Linked DNA regions of Homo sapiens. The protein of the gene in region 1 interacts with the protein of each later gene in a pairwise test. Each region holds a gene or a part of one and is shown in the gene's direction. Other genes may lie near its edges. The genes, in order: FEZ2 and PINK1.

Region 1 (4,024 bases):
TCTTGTATTGTTCTTAGATTGCATCTTGGGAGGTTGCTCCCTTTTGCTGCCTTTTGAATGTTATTTTCAATGCCACGGTAATGATATGGCCAAGGCAGTGATTAGTAATGACGTAGAGTTTAATGCTAGTACTGACATTAAAAAGCCTTACCTGGCTGGGCGCGGTGGCTCATGCCTGTAATCCCAGCACTTTGGGAGGCTGAGGTGGATGGATCACCTAAGGTCAGGAGTTTGAGACCAGCCTTACCAACACGGTGAAACCCCGTCTCTACTAAAAATACAAAATTAGCCAGGCGTGGTGGCGCATGCCTGTAATCCCAGATACTTGGGAGGCTGAGGCAGGAGAATTGCTTGAACCTGGGAGGCAGAGGTTGCAGTGCGCCGAGATCACGCCACTGCACTCCAGCCTGGGTGACAGAGCGAGACTCTGTCTCAAAAAATAAAAAAAAAAACAGCCTTACCTGGAAAAACTCAGCAGATGAAAGTGAACACGTGATCATTCACCTATCATCTCTCTGTTGTGACATGACTATTCTGGTGATGAATAGAATTGAAATCAGAACTCTGTTTCTCAGGGAGGATTAGCACACACTGAGTTTCTGAAAAACAAATGGGCAATAAGGACTATGTAAGAAGTCATCACGTCATTCTATTACATGGTATATAATTAAGCATTTTTTTTTTAATCTGGCAAAGTGACTGTATTTACCATTGCCACCTGGTGCTCTGTTCGTGCCGTGACTAAGCTATGTAAAATTTACCCTTTGAAAGCATTCTTTAGATTATTTTACTTATAAAACCAAGTGTATAGAAATTTTTTTTGACAAAAGAAGAATGGTTTTTGCATTAAAAAGAGAAAAACATTCAGGAAAACTAGTTTGCTAGATTGCAGTTTTAAATTTTTCTTTGATTGAAGATTAAGATGGCACACTTCTAAATTTGATATGTCTTTTTTAGAGTAAGGCAACTGGTATCTTTCAAATTCTTACGTGGGCACATTTTTTCCATTTGATGTATCTTCAGTTTTATACAGGGAAACAGTACCACCAGGTCTGTATCTAACCCTGGCATTGGAAGGAGTGATGGGAATGCTTGGCAAAGAGAAGGCACATTTAATGCTGAAGGGAGGAGTGAATAATGATACCCATGACAGCCAGGGCTAGTTTGCAAAGCCTGAAAGATATTCCAGCTCTTAGCATATGCCATCTCTGTGGGGAATGGACTTGGCTCTCTCTCTGGAAAGATGATCTGGGATCATTTCTGTTGTCATGGAAATTTATTATAATAGTTTACTGTTATTACTCATGTGTTTTGGCCATAACCCTATTCTAAATCTGGTGCCATTCTTGAATATACTTATATGATAGAATGCTTATCATTCATTTCAGCTTAAGAACATCTTCTGTGCTGTATTTCTCCTTCCATGTGCATTTCTTTCAGGACAGGGACTTTTGTATGCATCTTTATACCTTTAAGAGTAGAAATAAGAAAAAGATAATGTCTTCCACAGAAGCAATTTGATTGATTGATAGATTGAGAGAGTGTCTCCCTCTGTTGCCCAGGCTGGAGTACAGTGGCGCCATCATAGCTTACTGCAGCCTCCAACTCCTGGGCTTAAGCGATCTTCCCGCTCCAGCTTCCTGAGTAGCTAGACTACACACGAGTACCGCCATGCCTGGCTAATTTTAAGAAAATATATTTCTGTAGAGACGAGGTCTTCCTGTGTTGCTCAGGGTGGTCTTGATGTCCTGACCTCAGGAGATCCTCCCACCTTGGCCTCCCAAAGTGTTGGGATTACAGGTGTGAGCCATGGCAACCTGGGCTTCCTTAGGAGTAATTTTTTTTTTTTTTTTTGAGACATGGTCTGGCTCTGTTGTCCAGGCTGGAGCGCAGTGGCACCATCTTGGCTCACTGCAACCTCCACCTCCTGGGCTCAAGTGATCCTCCCACCTCAGCCTCCTGAATAGCTGGGACTACAGGCATGTGCCATCATGCCTGGCTAATTTTTTGTAGCAATGGGGTTTCACCATGTTTCCCAGGCTGTTCTCAAACTCCTGAGCTCAAGCAATCCACCCGCCTCAGCCTCCCAAAGTGCTGGGATTACAGGCATGAGCCACTGTGCCCACCCCGGATTAATTTTAAAATTAAAACTTTTAGTATTTATAAGCCAGAAGGGGAAAAATAAAACAAAATCATGGTCCTCAAGTTGCAACATAGGAAGAGTGATTGGGAAGGGGGTGTGAAGTGTTCGAAGTGTAAGGATCGATGAAACTAATCGGTAGGTCTACTCCATGGTATCGACATGCCTTTGTGATCACAGTGTGCCACATTTTCATCTTCTACAGTATAGAAATCATACATCCCCTCTCATCAAGAGCCTAGTCTCTTGATCTTTCTCCTTCTTTAAAAAATTAAATTATTAAAGGAACAGCTGTCATAGTTTAAAAAGTAAATTAGAACTATAGGACTTAAATGAAAAGGCAGTCTCTGCTCCACTTGATTTCTCCTTACCAGAGGTGGCCACTTTAAATGATATCAGCTATTTCTTTTAGCAGATAACATGCTCATGCCATTTTACTTGATATTATTTTCTCAATTTTAGACTTTATTTATTTTCTACCCAGAGGGTGAAGGTTTAGCTCTCTTCTGTCCTTTGCCAATCCCTGACACTATACCCTCCCAAAAACTTCCCTTTCCCCATCTTCCCAATGTAATTACATAACATCTGGGGTTGAATTAATCTTCATCATTTATATTTACTATTTAAATGTGCACAGTTGACCCATTATGATATATTATGTTTACATTTTCTCTTTTTCTACTTAGGTTTTTTCTTAGGATACTACCTGCCTTTTTGTGGTTTATTTAGTTTATAATTAGCTGACCAGTTCAGCCTCAATAGAGCCGTAGAACTCATTTTAGTAAATGGACCGCACTAGGTAATCTATCTAGTCCTTCTGCTCTCCCTCCCCACCCACCTCTCCCTCTTCTCCATGCTCTCTGCAATAAAAATTCTAATCTGAATGTTACTCTCTAGTGTAGCTTTACAGTCATCATTCTGGGATTTTCACTTTACTATCATTACGAGAATTCTCTTTGTCACTTGTTATTAGACCACATATCTTTTTTCTTTTTCATTTTCCTCCTGGTAGCTTTTTGAGAAAGGGCACATGAGAGGTAAATTTTTTCAGAACTTGTATGTCTGAAAATGTCTTTATCCTAGCCCCTGCCTACTTGTTTTAGCTGGATATAGGATTCTAGGATGGAATTTCTCCAAACATGGAAGTTACATCGATTATTTTCTAGCATCTATTGTTGCTATTGAGAATTCACTTGACATTTTGATTCCTGATCCTTTTAATGTGATTTTTTTTTCCCTCCCTGGAAGCTTTTAGATTCTCCTTTTTTCCACACAGTGTTCTTAGTTCATGATGCTGTGTTGAAGGTCATGGCCAGGCCTTTGCTAGGCTGATGGTGCAGTAAGAAATAAAATGAGAAGGGCTGTCGTCACTGCGCAGGAGCCTGGAGTTGCATTATAGGGTTGTAGGTGGACCGTGCAGTGTTGATGGGGCCCTTCTCCCAGCCTAATGTTGGAAAGTCAGTGTGCCAGTGCTTCTTCCCTTGGCCCTTCTCACGTGCAGGTTTCTTACTCTGTAGGCTGTGTTCACCTGCAAACTTCAGATGCTCATGTTATGAAGAACTAGGGAAGCAGTAGGAACCTACATCCATTCCATTGTGTCCTCAGCTTTAGACATATATCCTCTGCATGGATAAATAATTTTGCCAGGTAAAATTTTATCATGTTAGTTCTACACTATGTAATAGAATGACATGGTGGCTTCTTACGTAATCCTTGTTGCCCATTTATTCTTTGGAAACTCAGTGTGTGCTAATCCTTCCTGAGGAATAGAGTTCTAGTTTCAGTTCCATTCAACACCTGAATAGTCATGTCATGACAGATAGGTAGATGATAGACAGATGTTCCCTTGTTCATTTTAATCTGCTGAGTTTTTTCAGGCAAAGT
Region 2 (3,500 bases), on another chromosome or scaffold:
CAACCTCTGCTTCCCAGGTTCAAGCAATTCTCGTGCCTCCGCCTCCTGAGTAGCTAGGATTACAGGCAGGTGCCACCACGCCTAGCTAATTTTTGATTTTTTTTTTTTTTTTTTTTTGAGACTGAGTCTCGCTCTGTCACCCAGGCTGGAGTGCAATGGCATGATCTCGGCTCACTGCAAGCTCTACCTCCCAGGTTCACACCATTCTCCTGCTTCAGCCTCCCGAGTAGCTGGGACTACAGGCGCCCACCACCACGCCCGGCTAATTTTTTTGTATTTTTAGTACAGACGGGGTTTCACCATGTTAGCCAGGATGGTCTCTATCTCCTGACTTCGTGATCCACCTGCTTCGGCCTCCCAAAGCGCTGGGATTATTATTTTTAGTGGAGATGGGGTTTCACTGTTGGCCAGGCTGGTCTCAAACTCCTGGCCTCAAGTGATCCACCCACCTCAGCCTCCAAAATGTTGGGATTACAGGTATGAGCCACCACGCCCAGCTGGGAGTTGGCTTTTTTTTTTTTTTTTTTTTTTGAGACGGAGTCTCACTCTGTCGCCCAGGCTGGAGTGCAGTGGCATGATCTTGGCTCACTGCAACCCCTGCCTATCGGGTTCAAGCAATTCTCCCGCCTCAGCCTCCTGAGTAGCTGGGATTACAGGCACACGCCACTACACCTGGCTGATTTTTGTATTTTTAGTAGAGACGGGGTTTCACCATGTTGGTCAGGCTGATCTGGAACTCCTGACTTCGTGATCCGCCTGCCTCGGCCTCCCAAAGTTCTGGGATTACAGGCGTGAGCCACTGCGCCCAGCCAGGAACTGGCTTTTTAAAGGAATTTTGTGTGGACCCTTTTACAAATAACCAATTCTTTTTTTATTTTTTCTGAGACAGAGTCTCGCTGTGTTGCTCAGGCTGAAGTGATTCTCCTGTCTCAGCCTCCTTCACCTCCCAGGTTCAAGTAATTCTCCTGTCTCAGCCTCCCGAGTAGCTGGGATACAGGCACACACCACCATGCCTGGCTAGTTTTTTTGTATTTTTAGTAGAGACAGGGGTTTCACCATGTTGGCCAGGCTGGTCTTGAACTCCTGACCTCAGGTGATCTACCCGCCTCGGCCTCCCAAAATGTTGGCATTACAGGCCACCACACCCGGCAATAACTGATTCTTAATGCACCTGGTTCTTAGGTTTGGATTTGGGGTTTCAAATTCAAATCAAAGTCTCCTGGGGTATAAGGGCCCTTGGAGATCATTTGAACCAAGCTCTAGCTCCTTTGGTCTTGGGGACAGCTCCAATTACTAGAACATGATTTAAATTGAGCCACACAGTCCTTTGCCTGGGGATTTTGCAGCCTGTACTTACTGGAGGCATTTCCGTGTTCGCACAGCAGGCCCTTCTGATCAGCTCTCAGGCCTTGCTGACCTCCTGGGCCAACACTGAGCCATTAGCCCCTGTCAGCTATGTCTTGCTGGTGGCTTTAGTAGGGACATAGGAGGGCCTCTCAGAGGGAAGGAGGGGAGGAGAAATGGTCACTTTGCTTGCTCCTTCCCAGACGGCTGCCCCTGGCTGGTGATCGCAGATTTTGGCTGCTGCCTGGCTGATGAGAGCATCGGCCTGCAGTTGCCCTTCAGCAGCTGGTACGTGGATCGGGGCGGAAACGGCTGTCTGATGGCCCCAGAGGTGAGTCCCGAGTGTGTCATGCGCCATCGGCAGCCCTTCCCCCACATGTCCACTGAATGCAGGAGACTCGATGCCTTGTGATAACCCAACACCTCCATCTTTTCTGACCCATAATTTGGCACAAGTTCCTTCCCTGCCACTTTGCTTTCCTCCGGCGTTCCCTCATGTTCCAGGAGAATGCAAGTCCTGTCACATAAACCAGGTGGTCTAAGCAGACCCCTTCTGGGTCTGAGCCACAGCTCACTCAAGCTCTGGGTTCCTTGGGACAGAGTTCAGATTAGCCCATGGATCAGGTGATGTGCAGGACATGAAAAGGTTAGATGGGCGGGCAGCGTGATGTCTCACCCACTGCTTCTGAGCAGGTGTCCACGGCCCGTCCTGGCCCCAGGGCAGTGATTGACTACAGCAAGGCTGATGCCTGGGCAGTGGGAGCCATCGCCTATGAAATCTTCGGGCTTGTCAATCCCTTCTACGGCCAGGGCAAGGCCCACCTTGAAAGCCGCAGCTACCAAGAGGCTCAGCTACCTGCACTGCCCGAGTCAGTGCCTCCAGACGTGAGACAGTTGGTGAGGGCACTGCTCCAGCGAGAGGCCAGCAAGGTGAGGCTGTCCCCGGCTTCGAGGGGACGGTGTGGGTAGAAACCTCTGTTCTCGTTCCAGAGTGAAGGTCAGGTTTGGGCCAGAGCCACAGTGACAGATCCTCTGTGTTAGGAAGGTAAAGGCTAGTTACAAGAGAACAAAAAACAGATTTTAATGTAGGTAGGAGTAGGAGCACTAGCCACCACAGCATAGTCAGAATCCTAGCAGTTCAACTCCTGTGGCTTTTTTAGTTGCTGAAAAAGTTGTTCAGAGGCCAGACACGGTGGCTTACACCTATAATCACAGCACTTTGGGAGGCTGAGGCGGGTGGATCACTTGGGACCAGGAGTTCCAGTCCAGCCTGGCCAACATGGTAAAACCCCGTCTGTACTAAAAATACAAAAATTAGCTGAGTGTCGTGGCACACGCCTGTAATTCCAGGTACTCGGGAGGCTGAAGCAGGAGAATCGTTTGAACCCTGGAGGCAGAGGTTGCAGTGAGCCAAGATCGCGCCACTGCACTCTGGCCTAGGTGACAGTGCAAGTCTTTGTCTCAAAAAAAAAAAAAAAAAAAAAAGGCTATTCAGAGAGAGAAAAGGAGGCATTTTTGAGAAATGTTTAATGGAGATGTAGCTCATGGAAGCAGCTGAGAACTGATCAGAGAGAGATGGAAAACATCTCCTGAGAGCAGATCTGGACATTGTGAAATTAATATAAAGGAATGCAAAGGCAGACCTATCCGAAGCCATAATTGGAGTGGCAGCTGGCTCAGGGGCAGGCTTAGTGCAAAGAGCTGAGCCATACCTGCACCCCAGCACTGTTCTGCCACTCCGTTAACTGCTCTCTGTACGTGGCCTGCTATCTTGGTGCGCAGTGAAGGTTAGAACAACAGCTGCAACCAGTTATGAAATGATAGAGGAGACTACTTACCTGGTTCAAGGGACCAGATAGCTGTGCACAAGAGGCACTAGGCTTTCCACCCAGGGGGAAAGGCTATTTCAACAATGCATGCTGCCCCATGCAGAGGTGTACACATGGAAAAGCTTGGAGCACGGGCAGGGGACAGGCAGTATTTGTCACCTGAGTGAAGGGCATCAGTAGGAGATAGGGTAGAGGAAGAATTGGGTTGGGACCAGAGAAGGGAAGACCCTCACTAACAAAGCAGGCTTTGGGTTGAGACTGTGTTAACAGATGTTCTAGCTACAGCTTCCCTTCCTGTTGCAGAGACCATCTGCCCGAGTAGCCGCA

What was found.
Region 2: the proteins of FEZ2 (region 1) and PINK1 interact in binary tests that used the Homo sapiens proteins (3 or more experiments, as listed by UniProt).

Annotation. Positions count from the first base shown.
Region 1 is NC_000002.12:36,584,457-36,588,480, reverse strand, and holds part of FEZ2 (fasciculation and elongation protein zeta-2), read left to right. Parts: intron 1-4,024. UniProt on the Homo sapiens protein: Involved in axonal outgrowth and fasciculation.
Region 2 is NC_000001.11:20,646,958-20,650,457, forward strand, and holds part of PINK1 (serine/threonine-protein kinase PINK1, mitochondrial precursor), read left to right. Parts: intron 1-1,357; exon of another isoform or gene 1,358-1,547; coding exon 1,548-1,675; exon of another isoform or gene 1,676-2,037; coding exon 2,038-2,274; exon of another isoform or gene 2,275-3,476; coding exon 3,477-3,500. UniProt on the Homo sapiens protein: Serine/threonine-protein kinase which acts as a sensor of mitochondrial damage and protects against mitochondrial dysfunction during cellular stress.